2 separate regions of the Homo sapiens genome follow, and region 1 is linked to region 2. Evidence: fine-mapped expression QTL. A gene starts in region 2. The other region holds a variant in brackets. All regions are shown on one strand. Distances are between the middles of the regions. Region 1 overlaps GANAB (glucosidase II alpha subunit). Region 2 holds the start of MYRF (myelin regulatory factor).

The links.
Region 1: its variant is fine-mapped to the expression of MYRF in prefrontal cortex (BrainSeq, PIP 0.95).

The regions. Positions count from the first base shown.
Region 1 is chr11:62,634,596-62,642,595 of GRCh38, forward strand. It overlaps GANAB (glucosidase II alpha subunit), which reads right to left. Exons shown (of 24, transcript NM_198334.3): 2 at 5,032-5,136; 3 at 4,764-4,872; 4 at 4,388-4,515; 5 at 226-405. Among named protein-coding and RNA genes, the nearest start is that of GANAB, 8.0 kb to the right of the region's middle. The variant C/CA (reference allele first, on the strand shown) is at 3,303.
Region 2 is chr11:61,747,633-61,756,081 of GRCh38, forward strand. MYRF (myelin regulatory factor) reads left to right here and starts at 5,004. Exons shown (of 27, transcript NM_001127392.3): 1 at 5,004-5,158. The coding sequence starts at 5,113. MYRF-AS1 (MYRF antisense RNA 1) reads right to left here. Exons shown (of 4, transcript NR_026882.1): 3 at 8,003-8,064; 4 at 6,397-6,813. RefSeq lists enhancers at 1-394, 1,255-2,116, 8,420-8,449 and silencers at 4,794-4,933, 5,054-5,153.

The DNA.
Region 1 (8,000 bases), 890 kb after region 2:
TGCCCAGGGTACAGCTCAGGGACAAAAGTGACTGCCTCCTGGTCTGTACAGGAAATGGAAAAAACCGCACCCGGGTCTGGTTCCTACCCTCCCTGACAGAGAGCTTCTCCCAGCCCCCAGGCCCTACCTGGCTGTCCCACCACCGTCTCCTCCCCGTGCCAGACCTCACAACACCCCTATGCTCTTTCACACTAGGTTCCCTGCAGTCCCAACCCCTGTACTCACGAGACCCTAGGGGCCCTCTGATGCTCAAACTCCAAGAGTCCTCGGGCATTGACACTAAGCAAAAGACTTCGGTCCTCTAGTAGGTCAAGGCGGAATGGCCGTGCTGTCAAGATGATCTTGTAGGGTCCCTCAGCCATGGTTAACTCCACACTGTTCTCATCACGACCAGAGACAGAAAGCCTGGGAAACATATCAAAAGAAATATAAGGAAGTACAAAGGGCCAAGAGGAGTAATGACACTTTAGAAGACCGGGGGAAATCTACCTGTTAAGAGAAATAGGCAGTGTGGTAACAGAGCAGGGATAGACAAGTTAATAAACAGAACCAAAGGGCCCAGAAACAGACCCAAGCATATTTATTACTTTTTTCTTTTTTTTTTTTGAGACGGAGTTTCACTCTTGTTGCCCAGGCTGGAGTGCAATGGCGCAATCTCGGCTCACCGCAACCTCCGTCTCCCAGGTTCAAGCAATTCTCCTGCCTCAGCCTCCAAATAGCTGGGATTACAGGCATGCACCACCACACCTGGCTAATTTTGTATTTTTAGTAGAGATGGGGTTTCTTCATGTTGAGGCTGGTCTCAAACTCCTGACCTCAGGTGATCCACCCACCTCGGCCTCGCAAAGTGCTGGGATTACAGGCGTGAGCCACTGTGCCTGGCCACTTATTACTTTTTTAAATGTACTAAATACTAAGAGGTGGCATAGCAGATGAGAGAGGAAAGGAGAACTATTCAAAAATGGAACTGAAAAAACATTTTCCATATAGGAAAAAAAATGATTTTCCAAATATGAAGAAAAATGATGTACTTCTTTTTTTTTTTTTTGAGATGGAGTCTCGCTCTGTTGCCCAGGCTGGAGCACAGTGGCACAACCTTGGCTCACTGCAACCTCCACCTTCCAGGTTCAAGTGATTCTCCTGACTCAGCCTCCCTAGTAACTGATATTACAGGCAGGTGCCACCACACCCGGCTAATTTTTTTTTGTATTTTTAGGAGATATGATTTTTCGCCATGTTGGCCAGGCTAATCTCAAACTCCTGACCTCAAGTGATCCACTTGCCTCGGCCTCCCAAAGTGCTGGGATTACAGGCATGAGCTACCACGCCCAACCCCTTGATATCATATTTCTATCTAATACCAGATACAAGTATCAACTGCAGAAAGATTATGACTTAAAAAATTTTTTTTTCTTAAGATAGTCTCACTCTATCACCCAGACTGGAGTGCAGTGGCACAATCTCGGCTCATTGCAACCTCTGCCTCCCAGTTTCAAGTGATTCTTGTGCATCAGGCACCCGAGTAGCTGGAATTACAGGCGCCCACCACCACGCCCGGCTAAGTTTTGTATTTTCAGTAGAGACGGGGTTTCACCATGTTGACCAGGCTGGTCTTGTACTCCTGACCTCAAGTGATCTGTCCGCCTTGGCCTCTCGAAGTGCTGGGATTACAGGTATGAGCCATCACACCCAGCCTGCTTAAAATTTAAAAGTAAAAGCTTTAGGATGGGCTCGGTGGCCCACTATTGTAATCCCAGCACTTTGGGAGGCCGAGGCAGGTGGATCGCTTGAGCCCTGGTGTTCAAGACCAGACTGGGCAACATGGCAAAAACCCATCTCTACCAAAAATACAAAAATTAGCCAGTCTCATAACCCGATCTCAAAATAAGTAAATAAATGAAAGCAAAAGTGTTAGAAGAAAATTAAAAAATATATTTTTGGCCAGGCATGGTGGCTCATTCCTGTAATCTCAGCACTTTCGGAGGCCGAGGCAGGTGGATCATGAGGTCAGGAGTTTGAGACCAGCCTGGTCAACATAGTGAAACCCTGTCTCTACTAAAAATACAAAAAGTAGCCGGGTATAGTGACGCACGCCTGTAGTCCCAGCTACTTGGGCATAGTGGCATGAGCCTGCAGTCCCAGCTACTCGGGCATAGTGGTGCACGCCTGTAGTCCCAGCTACTCAGGCATAGTGGTGCACGCCTGTAGTCCCAGCTACTCGGGAGGCTGATGCTGAAGAAAGAATCGCTTCAACACAGGAGGCGGAGGTTGTGGTGAGCCAAGATCGCACTACTGCACTCAGCCTAAGCAACAGAGCAAGACTCTGTCTCAAAAAATATATATATATATATTTTTTTCTGACCTTGGGGTAGATAAAGACTAAATACAACAAACAAAAGGCTAACAACAGAAGGTAAAAGACTGATACATCTAAATACATTAAAATTAGGAATTTCTGTTTATCAAAAGTACCTTTAGGATCATTAAGAAAAAGGAAAAGTCTAAGAAATTTTATCAGTCTAGAGGGCCCTAAGGAAACATGACAACTAAATGTAATAACATATCCTGGATGAAATCCTGGAACAGAAAAAGAACATACACAAAAACTAAAGAAACCTCAAGTATGAACTTTAGTAACTAATGTATCACTATCAATTCACTAGGTATCACAAATGAACCATAGTCATATTAATAATAGGGAAGGCTGGCCGGGTGTGGTGGCTCAAGCCTGTAATCCTAGCACTTTGGGAGGCTGAGATGGGCAGATCACGATGTCAGGAGATCGAGACCATCCTGGCTTGCCCAGCTTCAATGAGGGCTTCTTATAAATCACTGGTGGAAGTGTAAATTGGTAAACCACTTTGGCTTTATCTTGCGAAGCTGATCATCTCCATATTCTACAATCCTGCAATTCCTCTCCTAGTTATACACCAAAGAGAAACTCCCAAGCAAGGATAACAGGAGACATGTACAAGAAGGTTCGTAGCAACACTTTGGCTAGCAAAACACTGGAAACAACCCCAAGGCTTATCAACCTAAAAATGGATTAATCAGTTGGGGTATATTCATACAACATAATAATATGCAGCAGTAAAAATGAATGAACTAGAGCTATATGAAATGGAATTAAATAAAGTTATGTGAAAAACGGAAACCCAGCCGGGCGCGGTGGCTCACACCTGTAATTCCAGCACTTTGGGAGGCTGAGGCGGGCGGATCACGAGGTCAGGAGATTGAGACCATCCTGGCTAACGCAGATCACGCCACTGTACTCCAGCCTGGGAGACAGCGAGACTCCATCT[C/CA]AAAAAAAAAAAAAGAAAAAACGGAAACCCCAGAAGACCACATGCACTAAGACACTTCCTCTGTAAAGCTCAAAAACAAAAAATATATATAATTTATTGCTTAGGCACACAGACATATGTGTGCATATGTATACACACATAATACAACTGTAAGAACAAAAAAAAGGCAAAGGAAGGATAAGCTTCAGAATAACGACTACCTACGTCTGGAGCCGTCAAGGGTACAGGACAGTGCGGGTTGGGCTGAGTGAAGAGTTTATAGGGTGGAGTATTTGAGACGGAGTCTCACTCTGTCGCCCAGGCTGTAGTGCAGTGACACAATCTCGGCTCACTGCAACCTCTGCCTCCTGGGTTCAAGTAACCGTCCTGCCTCGGCCTCCTGAGTAGCTGGGATTACAGGTCCGCACCACCACACCTGGCTGATTTTTGTATTTTTAGTAGAGATGGGGTTTCACCATGTTGGCCAAGCTGGTCTCCAACTCCTGACCTCGTGATCTGCCCACCTCGACCTCCCAAAGTGCTGGGATTACAGGCGTTGAGCCACCATGCCCGGCCACTATGTTATTTTCTGAATTATGTATTTAAGAGAAAGTCATGGATGGATGCATGGAACACTGGTGACAGAGTATCATGACACAAGAATCTGAGTAATCCTATTCTGAATATCTAAGGAAAAGGAAAGGAGGAAGGAAGGAAGGAAGGAAGGAAGGAAGGAAGGAAGGAAGGAAGGAAGGAAGGAAGGAAGGAAGCAAGCAAACAAGCAAGCAGGTAGACATTGTATTCCTGGAGAACGAGATCTGTAAATAAACAGGGCCTTGTTTATTTCTGCTTATATAACCAGCATCCAGCCCAGGCCTGTCAGGGAGGAAAAAGCAATAATTGTTTGCTGAATGAATGAATGAGGATAAAGGGATAAAGAGAAAAGTGAAACAGAAGAAGAGGTGGGGAAAGGTTGAGGAGTATGGCAAGGTGCTATGCTAGTTAACTACTACCTTATTTTGGGAAAGAATATCAGCAACCAAAAAAAGGTTCATCAGGAAGGAGAAAGGGGCCACAGAAATGGATGTTTCTCAGGAAAAATTTACCGGGCTATTGGTGGATCAGCCACCAAAACATCTGGTACACGGTATCGGGGTCGCCGAGGCTCCAGCTCATCAATCCTGAACCGAGTCATGTTCTTTTGAAGCCCCTGAAGCTCTAGCACCAGCAACACCTGCGGGGACAGAGGTTTGGATCTGGAGAAAGGAAATGGGATACACCATGGAATGCTCTTTGAACCCATTCTCTCCTAAGGGGTTTCTTCCTTTGAGCCCTTTGCCTAAAGGCCAAGATCACATTTCTTCATAAAGTAAAAGTCCAAAGATTAGGCTGGGACAAGATGTTGGCCACAATTTCCCCCTTTCCAAATTACCCCACAGCCATTGCCCCACCCCCACCAGACTCTTCCTTGTCTCTCCTGACCTTGGTGACCTCATGGATCAGATGGACCGTGAGGGAATCAGGACCAAGCTGTAGAGAGTCCAGCAAGGCTCGGTATGGAGAGAGGCCTGGCCGTATGCTTCTCTGTCGCCTGCCAAGTGAAGGGTTGGGAAGTAAGGTAAAGGCCACCTGCAATGTCCCTAAGTCAGTCTATCACCTGCAGTGTCCTTAGGCACTCCATCTGCCACAGATATCTCCCACATTACCCTACAACCCTACATTCCATCCCTCTCCCCCAGAAATATCATACTTGCAGAAAGAACTCTCTTCACAGGTCTTAAAGTTGCTTCTATCCACAGCAAGGGTAATCCCCAGGCAGACCCCTAAAAAAGCCAGTACCAAAGACGCCCAAGACCTAAGGAGAAAAGGACAAAGACAGAGCAATCAGCATGGAGGTCAGAAGGGGCCCCCTTCAAAAGGAAAAGCTTCTTCCTGTCATAGCACTAGAAGATAGTTGAGGAAAGAGGGGAGAAAGATGTAGTCACATCAAATACAAAACAAGGCAGAGTGGACACAGGGTTAAGGATCAGGCCTGAGAAGTTGGCTCACTCACACCTTCCCTTTGAAAGGCAGAGTAGGCTGGGCGTGGTGGCTCACTCCTGTAATCCCAGCACTTTGGGAGGCTGCGGCGGGCGGATCACGAGGTCAGGAGATCAAGACCATCCTGGCTAACACGGTGAAACCCTGTCTCTACTAAAAATACAAAAAAAATTAGCTGGGCGTGGTGGCGGCCACCTGAAGTCCCAGCTACTCGGGAGGCTGAGGCAGGAGAATGGCGTGAACCCAGGAGGCGGAGCTTACAGTGAGCCAAGATCGTGCCACTGCACTCCAGCCTGGGCGACAGAGCTAGACAAAAAAAAAAAAAAAAAAAAAAAAGCCAGGCGCGGTGGCTCACGCCTGTAATCCCAGCACTCTGGGAGGCTGAAGTGGGCGGATCACGAGGTCAGGAGATCGAGACCATCCTGGCTAACACAGTGAAACCCCGTCTCTACTAAAAATACAAAAAATTAGCCGGGCGTGGTGGCAGGTGTCTGTAGTCCCAGCTACTTGGGAGGCTGGAGCTGGAGAATGGCATGAATCCGGGAGGCAGAACTTGCAGTGAGTCAAGATCGCACCACTGCACTCCAGCCTGGGTGACAGAGTGAGACTCCATCTCCAAAAAAAAAAAAAAAAAGGGCCGGGTGCGGTGGCTCATGCCTGTAATCCCAGCACTTAGGGAGGCCAAGGCTGACAGATCACGAGGTCAGGAGTTTGAGACCATCCTGGCTAACACGGTGAAACTCTGTCTCTATTAAAAATACACAAAATTATCCAGGCGTGGTGGTGGGCAGCTGTAGTCCCAGCTACTCGGGAGGCTGAGGCAGGAGAATGGTGTGAACCTGGGAGGTGGAGCTTGCAGTGAGCTGAGATCACTCCACTGCACTCCAGCCTGGGCGACAAAGTAAAACTCCCTCTCAAAAAAAAAAAAAAAAAAAAAGGCAGAGTACACAGAGGATCTTTCACCTTCAGAGGCCCTGGTGTTGACTCTGGTGACATCAGCCTCTCAGAGGAAAGGAGCAGTAACAGCCAGTCTCAGAGGAAATGGTAGTACCATATGCGTGGAACAGAGAAACAAAGCAAGCCACATCTTTCTATCGGCAAGGCATTGGGTGGATGCAAAGTTAAAGAGCTAAACATGAAGGCCGGGCGCAGTGGCTCATGTCACGTCTGTAATCCCACCACTTTGGGAGGCTGAGGCGGGTGGATCACTTGAGGTCAGGAGTTCAAGACCAGCCTGGCCAACATGATGAAACCCCATCTCTACTTAAAATACAAAAATTAGCTGGGCATGGCGTTGAGCATCTGTAGTGACAGCTACTCGGGAGGCTGAGGCATGAGAATCGCTTGAACCCGGGAGGCAGAGGTTGCAGTGAGCCAAGATTGTGCTACTGCACTCCAGCCTAGGTGATGGAGCAAAACTCTCAGAAAAAAAAAAAAAAAAAAGATGTACCCTCAGCTAGCCTGCTGGTTACAGTTCCTAGGGTCCTAACATCCCTAGCACCCTAGGCAGCCTGTTTCTCTGATTTCTACTCCTGTATCTTCAAAACACCACCATCACTACCCAAAGCTGAAAAAAAATAACAATAGCTAAAATGTTCTGAGCCCTAATGCACCCCTAGGGGCCTGGGTAATCACTTTATATTACTAGTTTTTAATACTGCCTGCAGTTTTTGTTTTTTGCTTTGAGACAGTCTCACTCCATCACCCTGGCTAGAGTGCCATGGCATGATCTCAGCTCACTGTAACCTCCGCCTCCCAGGTTCAAGCAATTCCCATGCCTCAACCTCCTAAGTAACTGAATTACAGGAGCACGCCACCATGCCCAGCTAATTTTTGTATTTTTGGTAGAGACGGAGTTTCACCATGTTGGCCAGGCTGATCTTGAATTCCTGACCTCAGGTGATCCACCTGCCTCACCCTCCCAAGTAGCTGGGACTACAGTTGCTCGCCACAGCACCCAGCTAATTTTTAAAAAGTTGTGGTTTTTGTTTTTTTTCTGGCCAGGCGCAGTGGCTCACACCTGTAAACCCAGCACTTTGGGAGGCCGGGGTGGGCGGATCACAAGGTCAGGAGTTCGAGACCAGGCTGGCAAAGAGACCAGCCTGGCCAATATGGTGAAACCCCATCTCTACTAAAAATACAAAAATTAGCCAGGCATGGGAGCAGGGGCCTGTAATCCCAGCTATTCAGGAGGCTGAGGCAGGAGAACTGCTTGAACCAGGAGGTGGAGGTTACACTGAGCAGATCATGCCATTGCACTCCAGCCTGGGCAACAGAGCGTGACTCTGACTCAAAAAAAATAAATAAAAATTTTTTTTGGTAGCAACAGGGCCTCACTTTGTTGCCCAGGCTGGTCTTAAACTCCTGGGCTCAAGCAGTCCTCCCATCTTGGCCTCCCAAAGTGTTGGGATTATAGTGTCAGCCACTGTGCCCAGCCTGCCTGCAGTTTTTAACAATATCAGTGACCTGGTCTCACTTCTAAAAATTTTAACTTAATCAGAGAGAAGCCTGGGCATCAGACTTTTTTTTTTTTTTTGAGATGGAGCCTTGCTCTGTCACCCAGGTTGGAGTGCAGTGACATGATCTCAGCTCACTGCAACCTCTGCCTCCTGGGTTCAAGCGATTCTCCCGCCTCAGCCTCCCGAGCAGCTGGGATTACAGGTGCCCACCACCATGCCC
Region 2 (8,449 bases):
ACAATGCAGACAGCTAGGGCAGGCAGGGGTGGAAGATCCCAGTGGGACAGCACTGAAATGCAGGGGCCACTAGAAGTCTTTGCTGAGGGCTTTCCTGAGAGGGCGCAAAATACCTGGCCAGACCCAGTGCAGCCCAGGAACCCCAGGCCAGCATAGCTTCCGGGCAGTGAGGCCTAGGGAGTGGCTGGAAGGCCCAGGTGGTGGGGCCTGCCCCCTCTACACAGCAGGTGGCGCTGTTCAGCCAGTCAGTCCCGCCTTGGCCGCAGAGTCTGGCCTCGGCACTGACCCAGCCAAGCTGACCGGACCTTTCCCTTCCCCTGACCCTGCCCCCATCTCGGCCCCCAGTGTCCAGTGGCTCTATTTGGTGAGGGGCTGGGGAGAGTGATAGAAGAATGCCCCCAGCCTTAGAGCCTGTCTTCACCCACAGCCACTGAACAGAAGCAGAAACGGGCCAAACAAGGGTGAAGACCTGCCCAAGGTCGCATGGGAGGTGGGGACAGACTGGGGACCAGAATCAGGGCCTCTCAGCCTAGGACTCTGGCCTCCACCACACCTGATGGCTTTCAGAGGTTCTTTGCCCTCAGTGGTCTCAATGGTCTGCAAATTATCCTGTCCAGTGAGCACAGCACAGGCAGAAGAAACTGAAGGCCAGGGAGGCTCTGTGGCTTGCCCGGGGCTGCAGCCAGGGTGTGGCATTGGGGAGGGTCTTGAGAGGGCAGTGCTGGGAAGGGCTAGAGAGGCACTCTGCCTCACGCTCCACTCAATACCTGCAGCAGCCCCCTCCTGTCCCGGTGCCCCTGCAGTCAGGAAGGGGTCTACCCTGCAGGACCCCACACTCAGGTGTGCCCTTGGGCCCTAGTCCGGGGAAGCTGGACCACCAGCCTCACTGGCTTGCTGGATTGACACTCACCCCACTTTGAGCCCTCCTCTTCCTCTGCGAAATGGCCTGATGCCAGTGCTGTGTGGGTCCACAGGAGGCCAGGAGAGTCCCACGGTGGGGAGGACAGGGCTGTACCTTCTCCTGGGCTGGCCTCTACGCCCATTACCCATTAACCCTCAGGTGCCAGCATCCCTCTCCCCAGTGCTGCCTTCGGTCTACCACCTCCTCCTGGCCCTGCTCCCACTCAAGGGACAGTGATGGGTGCTGAGAGCTGATTGGAACTGGAGAGGGCACCATTTACTGATCACTGACCTGGCACTTTACCTCCACTGTAAGGCAGGGATACTGAGTGTGCTTTATAGATGAGGCCTCTGAGGACAGAGGGCAGGCCTTGGGGACTAGGTGGAGCTGGCTACAGGGGACAGCCATGTCTGCTGGGCTAGGGCTGAAATCTCAGCCCCTCACTCACTGTGGCTCGGTAGAGAAGCCAGGGGCACAGATGAGGACTCATCTCCATTGATGGGCCCCCCTAGGTCCTTGTATGCAAGTCCCCTGGGCTACTTTCACCGGCCCAGCCACCTTCCTGCCCCAGCCTCTGCCCCAGCGCTGCTTGGGACCCAACTTCATTATGGAGTTGGCAGATGGCAGCCTCAACTCTTGGCTGAGCCCTTGAGTCTGGGACATTTCAGCCACCTCTTTCCTCCAGTCCAGAGATGAAAATCCCTGGGGACAGTTGCTCCTTTGCTCAGTGACCTAGTGTAACAGGGGAGATGGCAGGGCCTGAGCTCCCTTAGCCAGGTCAGCTGCTACAGGGTTAACAGGAGGCTCCATTCCACCCCTTCCAACTTCAAGGCTACCCTAGAGATTGAATAATCTATACTCTTAATTGATTATAATGCAATGGAGTTGGGGCGTTAGGGACAAAGTACGAGTCTTCCCTTCTACCTCCAGCCCTTGCTGACCAGGACAGGGACAATGTGTAGCTCAACGGATGGTGGTGAGAACTTAGATGATGGTCAGTTATGCAGTATGTGGGATACGGAGGAAAGATCCGTGGGTATGTGGAGGCTTGTAGAGAAGCTGGTTCTGTGGCTGGTCCCAGGCGACTCGTAATGTAAATCCGTTTCTCAGAATCGCGTGGTGTAGGCGGGTGTCTACTTTGTCCGCAGGCAGGCCTGACCCCGGGTGGAGGAGGGGCAGGGTGGAGAATAACAATTGTCTTAAGGGAGTCTGCGGAGGGAGAAAAACCTCTGGGGTGTATCAGCTGGAAAAGAATAGGAGTCTCAGTGTGGCCCCTCTCCCCCCTCTCAGCCCAGCCCCTGCGGGGGCGGTGAGGGAGCTGCGGTCAGCACACACAGCTGGGGCCTCCAGCAAAATCCCATTCTATATATCTAAGAGCAACAGCTCTGAGAGCGGCCCCCAGAGGGACAAAACCTCATTGTGAGGCACCCGCCGGCCTCAGCACCCCCTCCCCCAACCCCAGAACTGTCGTGGCATTGACCCTTTTCGGCGGGCCACCATGGGCCTGCTGACTGGGCCACATCTGGGGCTCAGGCATTGGCTGCCCCTCCCCCACGGCTGGCCACTGAGAACTGACAGGGAGGCTGGGGTGGGAGCGGCTTCCAGGCCTCTCACCCCATCCCCACGGGGTGGCCTGGCTTGTGCCCCACCCTCCCTGGGGATGCTGCAAGGCAGAGGTGAGAGTCCGAAGCTGGCTACGTTGGCATCTTGATCTGCCAGCAGTCCCCCACACCTCTGGCCTCTGTTTAGTGGCTTGTCAAACAGTGGTTGGGTGGGGTAGGTTTTTCCAGCTTTTACGTGCTGCCTTGAAGGGTCCCGAGAGGCTTCAAGTTGAGCCACTCTGAAGCGGGATGATTCTCTAGGTCTGGGATTCCAGAATTATCCGCTCCCAAGGTTTCAGAGGTCCAGGATTCTGTAGATTTTTGTTTGTTTGTTTGTTTGTGTTTGGAGACAGGGTTTTGCTCTGTCGCCCAGGCTGGAGTGCAGTGGTGCAAACATGGCTCACTGCAGCCTCACTGCAGCCTCAACCTCCTGGGCTCAAGCGATTCTCCTTCCTCAGCCTCCCCAGTAGCTGGGATCACAGGCATGTGCCACCGTGCCTAGTTAATTTTTTAATTTTTTGTAGAGACAGGGTCTTGCCATGTTGCCCAGGCTGGTCTCGAACTCCTGGCCTCAAGCAATCCTCCTGCCTCAACCTCCCAAAGTGCTGGGATTACAGGTGTGAGCCACTGGAGCCTGACTGGATTCGGTAGTTTGAAGATGCCACCATACATTCATTCAACACATTTATTGAGCACCTACTGTGTGCCAGGTCATGTTCTTGGTGTTGAAGCTATAGCAGTGACCGATACAGAAAAATATCTTGCCCTCGTAGGGCTTCCATTCTAGAGCAAGAAGGATAATAACAGAAACTAAATAGGAATCTTTTACATGGTGAGCAAGAAAGGCCTAGGTAGGGAGAACTGCTTTAGGTAGGCTGGTTGGGGACATGACATTTGAGCTGAGACCAACTGCTACAAAGAAGTAGCCATGTGGAGACAAGCATTGTAAACAGATGGAATAGCATGTGCCAAGGCCCTGTGGCAGGTGTAGGCCTTGCATGTTTGAGCAATGGCAAGGAGGTCTTGGTGGCTGTTATTCAGTGAGCAATGGAGAGAGGGGAAGAGCTGAGGCCAGTGGTAGAGGCGGGGCCTGAGAAACCAGAGCAAGACATTCAGATATTGTTTTGAGTGCAAAGGGAAACTTAGTTTTGCAAAGGAATGACATGATCGGATGTATGTTTCAGAAAGGGTGATTTGGGAGAACTGAAGGGGATATCAGTGAGACGAGAGGCTGTGCAAGTTGGGCAGGACAGAGATGTGGAGGCAGTCAGTCATAAGGGTGAAGGCAGGGGCACAAGGACAACCGCTTTATCCTGGACTTATATCGAGTTAGAACCTCCAGGTTTCATTATACCAGACAGGGCCACGGCAAAGGAGAGTTCGGATTCCCGGGGCAGCCAGGATTTGGCTCTGAACTTTAATGACCTTGAAACTCTTAGGCAGGGCGGGGAGCGGTGGCTCATGCCTGTAATCCCAGCAGTTTGGGAGGCCAACGTGGGCTGATCACCTAAGGTCAGGAGTTCGAGACCAGCCTGGCCAACATGAGGAAACCCCGTCTCTACTAAAAATACAAGTTAGCCCAGCGTGGTGGCGCCTGTAATCCCAGTTACTGGGGAGGCTGAGGCAGGAGAATCGCTTGAACCGAGGAGGCAGATGTTGCAGTGAGCTGAGATCGCGCCATTGCACTCCAGCCTGGGCGACAGAGCCGAACTCCATCTCAAAAAAAAAAGGAGCTTTTAGACCTGCATTGTCCAATACCACAGCCACACGTAACTGTTTAATTACAATTAAACAAAATGAAAAAATCAGTTCCTCAGTCTCAATAGGCACATTTCCAGTGCTCACTTGTGGCCAGTGACTACCATACTGAACAACACAGGGAACATTTCCATCATCACAGCCACAGGACAGGGCTTCCTGGCAGTCCTTAATGCATTGAGCCTCAGTTTCCCCATCTGTAAAATGCAGGTAACAACAGCATCTCCTTGATAAGGTGCCTGTGAGGAGTACATGAGATAATGCCTGTGTGGCCTGGCACATAACACACGTTCCCTAAATGCAGGTTGTTATTGTTGCTGAGCGGGGTGTGTGGGTGGCTAACGAGAGGGATGGGGGCTGTCTCTGAGGTTTGGATTCGGAATCGTGACATCTTGTCCCGTGCAAGACGAAGGCGAGGACGGCGAGGGCACACCCTTCCAGTCCCGACCCCACAGAGGCCAAGCGGCCCTTCGCCCCCACCCCGACCCGGGAAGGCCCCGCGCCCCTCAAGCCTGGGACGGTCTCGCGTCCCCCGACCCGGGACGGCCCCGCGCCCCGCAAGCCTAGGACTGCCCAGCGCTGAGCGCCGCCTGCAGGAGTCGGGAGCGTGGTGCCCGCGGCCGGGCTGGGCGCGGCGCGGGCCGGCAGGGGGCGCTGGGCGCGGCGGGCGGGGCGCGTGGGGCGGGCAGGGGCCGGGCCAGGGACGCGCGGGGGGCAAGCGCGGCGGCGGACCGGGCGGGACCGTAGCCGGAGCCCAGCCGGGACTGTCGCGCGGGCCGCGCCGGCGATGCCGCGCCCCCGGGCCGGGCTGTAGCGGGGCCGCGGCTGGAGTGTGCGCCGGGCAGGCGGGACATGGAGGTGGTGGACGAGACGGAGGCGCTGCAGCGCTTCTTCGAAGGTGAGAGACCGCGGGCTGGCGGCGGCGACCCTCTGGCGCTGGGAACCCCCGGCTGATCTCCCCGGGAACTGGGGCTCCTCGCTGTGTTTCCGCCTCCTCTGGCTGGGACCCTCCTTCAGGCTGGCACCAGCCCGCCAAGACAGGCTCCCGGGGCTGGGAGTCCCCCAGCGGTTACCACCCACCGCCGCTGAAGTTGGGCTCCCCCTCCCCGCTCCTCAACTCGCAGCTTCCTTGGGACTGTGTCCCCTTCCAGGTCCGGACTCCTTTGAGCCTTCCAGGACCCGGAACTTTCCCTAAATTGTGACACTCTCGCCCCCAGCAAACTTCCCGAGTCTGGGGACCCTCTACTTTGCTTCCCCAGAACCCCAAGCGGGATACAACCCCATTCAAGGCCCAGACCCCCGGTGTGCCTTCTAGGACCTTCCGTACCTCTTGAGGCTGGACCCCAGCCTGCTTCCCAGAATCTGTGACCCCCGCCTAGAGACCAAGACCCCCTGTGTGCCCTTCTGGTTGGCGCCATCCCCCATGACTTCTAGGAGCTGGGACCTCCCCACTGTGCTTCCATGAGGGTAGGACCACTTTCGAGCCTGGATCCCCTTGGAGACTGCCACCTGCTTTCCACAATGCTGCCTAGTGACTGCTCTCCTGTTTGGGGCTGGGACCCCCCTCCCTAGCATGCTCTCCTGGGGCTGGAACCTTCTTGAAGCTGACATCCCTGCCACCGGTCACCTCTGCTCTCTGAGACCCTTCTAGTGCTGTGAACTGCATCCCACCAGCCCTCTGAGGCTCCTCAGCACTATGTCCCCCCAACCCTGGAGCTGTGCCTCTCTGACCTCGCCCCCTCAAAGAGTGACCTCACCCCCACTTGACCGAAAGGAGCCCTCTGGGGTGGAATTGACATACACCCCATAATATCTTCTTCTGCCCCCACCCCTACATTGGTTTTGGAGGTCTGCTCCTCCATCTAACCAACTCCCTGTCTTTTCCTGGACGACCCCTGCCCCTCCTGCAGGGCCACCACTCCTCCTGGTGCTGGGTTCTGGAGGGATGGGACCGCAGTGGGAGGGGGAGGGGAAGTTCTGGCTGACTGCCTCCCAGCCCACTCCGCTTCTCAGAACCTCCCTGGAACATCTAGCCAGACCCTCTGGCCCCCTTTTGTGCCCCTGTCTACCAATGCAGCGAGCCCAGCCCCTGCCCCGAGCTCCCTCTAGTCCCTAAGGCCACATCCTGCTCCTTGGTGCATTGAGAACCTTCCCTTCATGTGTGAACCTATCAGGGCTACAGGGCAGGGAACCAAGGCCCAAGTTTCAAGCCCCAGATTCCTGTGGAGTCCTGTGGAGGAGAGAAGCAGGTCTTCCGGTGCCTCAGTTTCTCTCCCTCTGTGACTTGGGAGGCAGGAACCCTTGTTCACACCTGCTGGCTGAGCAGCCCAGGCAGGGGCACCCCTAAGCCTCAGTCATCCCACTCCAGGATTCTGGACACCCCACAGACCCAGAACCCAAGAGTTCAGGCTTGGACTAGATTGAATGGTTGACTCTGCATCAGGTGGGCCATCTGAGGGTCTTAGGCAGCCCTGCATCTGTCCCGGGGCTCTGGCTCTCCCCAGACACTGTTGATCCATAGGAGCTCTCGAGGGGCCTGACGCGGTTTGAGACCTTCAGGGAAGAGGGGACCAGACATTCGTGCTTGCTTGGGTTACTGTCTGGAGTGCCTTGAGCCTGCTAGGTACCCAGAGGACCCGCAGGCCAGGCTCCCTTGACCTCCACACTGCCTGCCCCAGGACGCTGGGCCCTGACAGAGAGCAGAGGGGTGGGCCTGGCTGGCCTGGACTCCCTGGCTCCCTCCTGACCATGGGTTGGGGGGTGGGGGCTGACGCCACGGCTTAGCCATGCAGCGGCCTGGCGGGGGGAGGCTGCGCTACTCCCTCCAGAGAGATAAGAGGAGACTCAAGAATGTCTGTGGGGAGCAGGGGAGGGGTGTGAGGCTGCCCGTCTAGGAGGGCTGGGCTGGAAACAGCTCCCAGCCCCTGCGATGGGGGAAGGTGTGGGTGGCCCCTGAGGCCTAGGGTCTCCAGGCCACTTGGGAGGGGAAGGCCCATGTGGGGGACCCACTGTAGGTGTGAGAGAAGGCCTGGGAGTGGCAGGGCCTGGTGTGCTTGTGAGTGTGTGAAGTGCGAGGGAGCGGGAAGTTGTGCTTTTGAGCCGTGGCTGCGTCACTCTTGAGTGCTGTCACACTCGGGGCTGGGGCTGGGGACACCTGAGCTCTCATCCTGGTCCCCACTTGGCCTTGGTCATCCCTCTGGACAGTGGGTAGCAGTCCCTGTGCTCTCGGCTCTGGGCTGGGAGACTGGGAAAGGGTTTTACCGAAGGGGCTGCAGCACAGCGCGCCCCCTCACCTGACGTGGTCCCCCTCCCTGGGCACACACCAAGCATAGGTGCTGGGTCCTGCCCTGTGCCGGTGGTGGGCTGGGGGCTAAGGCGCTTTGGACCTCAGGTGGGAGGCCGGGACAGAGCGGCCCCCTCGAGGCTGGTACAGCCGGGCCCCCGTGACCGCCCGGCTAATCCCCTAGAGAGAGGCAAGGCAGCCCAGATCGGCGGGCACAGGGCCTGCAGAGAGGGGACCCACCGGGCAGGATGCACTGGCTTCCAGCAGGTAACCGGGCCATGGTATAAGGGGGCTTTGGACTCCAGAGCCAGGGCAGGCACGGGACAGGGCAGTGTCTGAGAATCCTGCCAGGACCTCAGAGTTCTGGTGCAGGCTGGACCACTGAGAGTGGGGTGACCGTCTGTGCCTGGCAGGGAACCCCCAAAGAGCTCTTGCCCTCTTTAAGTCCTTTTTCCTCACCTGCAAGACAGGAGGGGGTGGCAGAGAAGAACCTCAGCTCTGAAGAAGCTCACTGCCCAGCCCTGGGAAGGAGAGACATGTTAGAGTATGAATGGCCGAGCCTGGAAGGGGTGCCTGCTGGCCCTAGATTCTAGGGGCACATGAGGCTCGAGTGAGCAACCAGTGTCCCCCAGAAAGCAGGTGGGTGTGCAGGGAGCCTTGGAGGATGGAGGGAAGTCGCCTTCCAGCAGGTGCTGGAAAGACCACTTGGAGTTTAGTGGGCCTCTGCCCGGCCTCTGGAGCCCCACCAGGGCTGGAGGAGGGAGGCCTGGGATTTCGCCCCTTCTGAAGCTGATGGGTGGCTGGACTGGTGACTTCCTTCTCTGGCCTCATTCCCCTCCCAGGGTAAGTAAGTGGGTTGGACCAGAGCAGGGGCTTCCAATGTGATTTTTTAACCATCAAACAAAC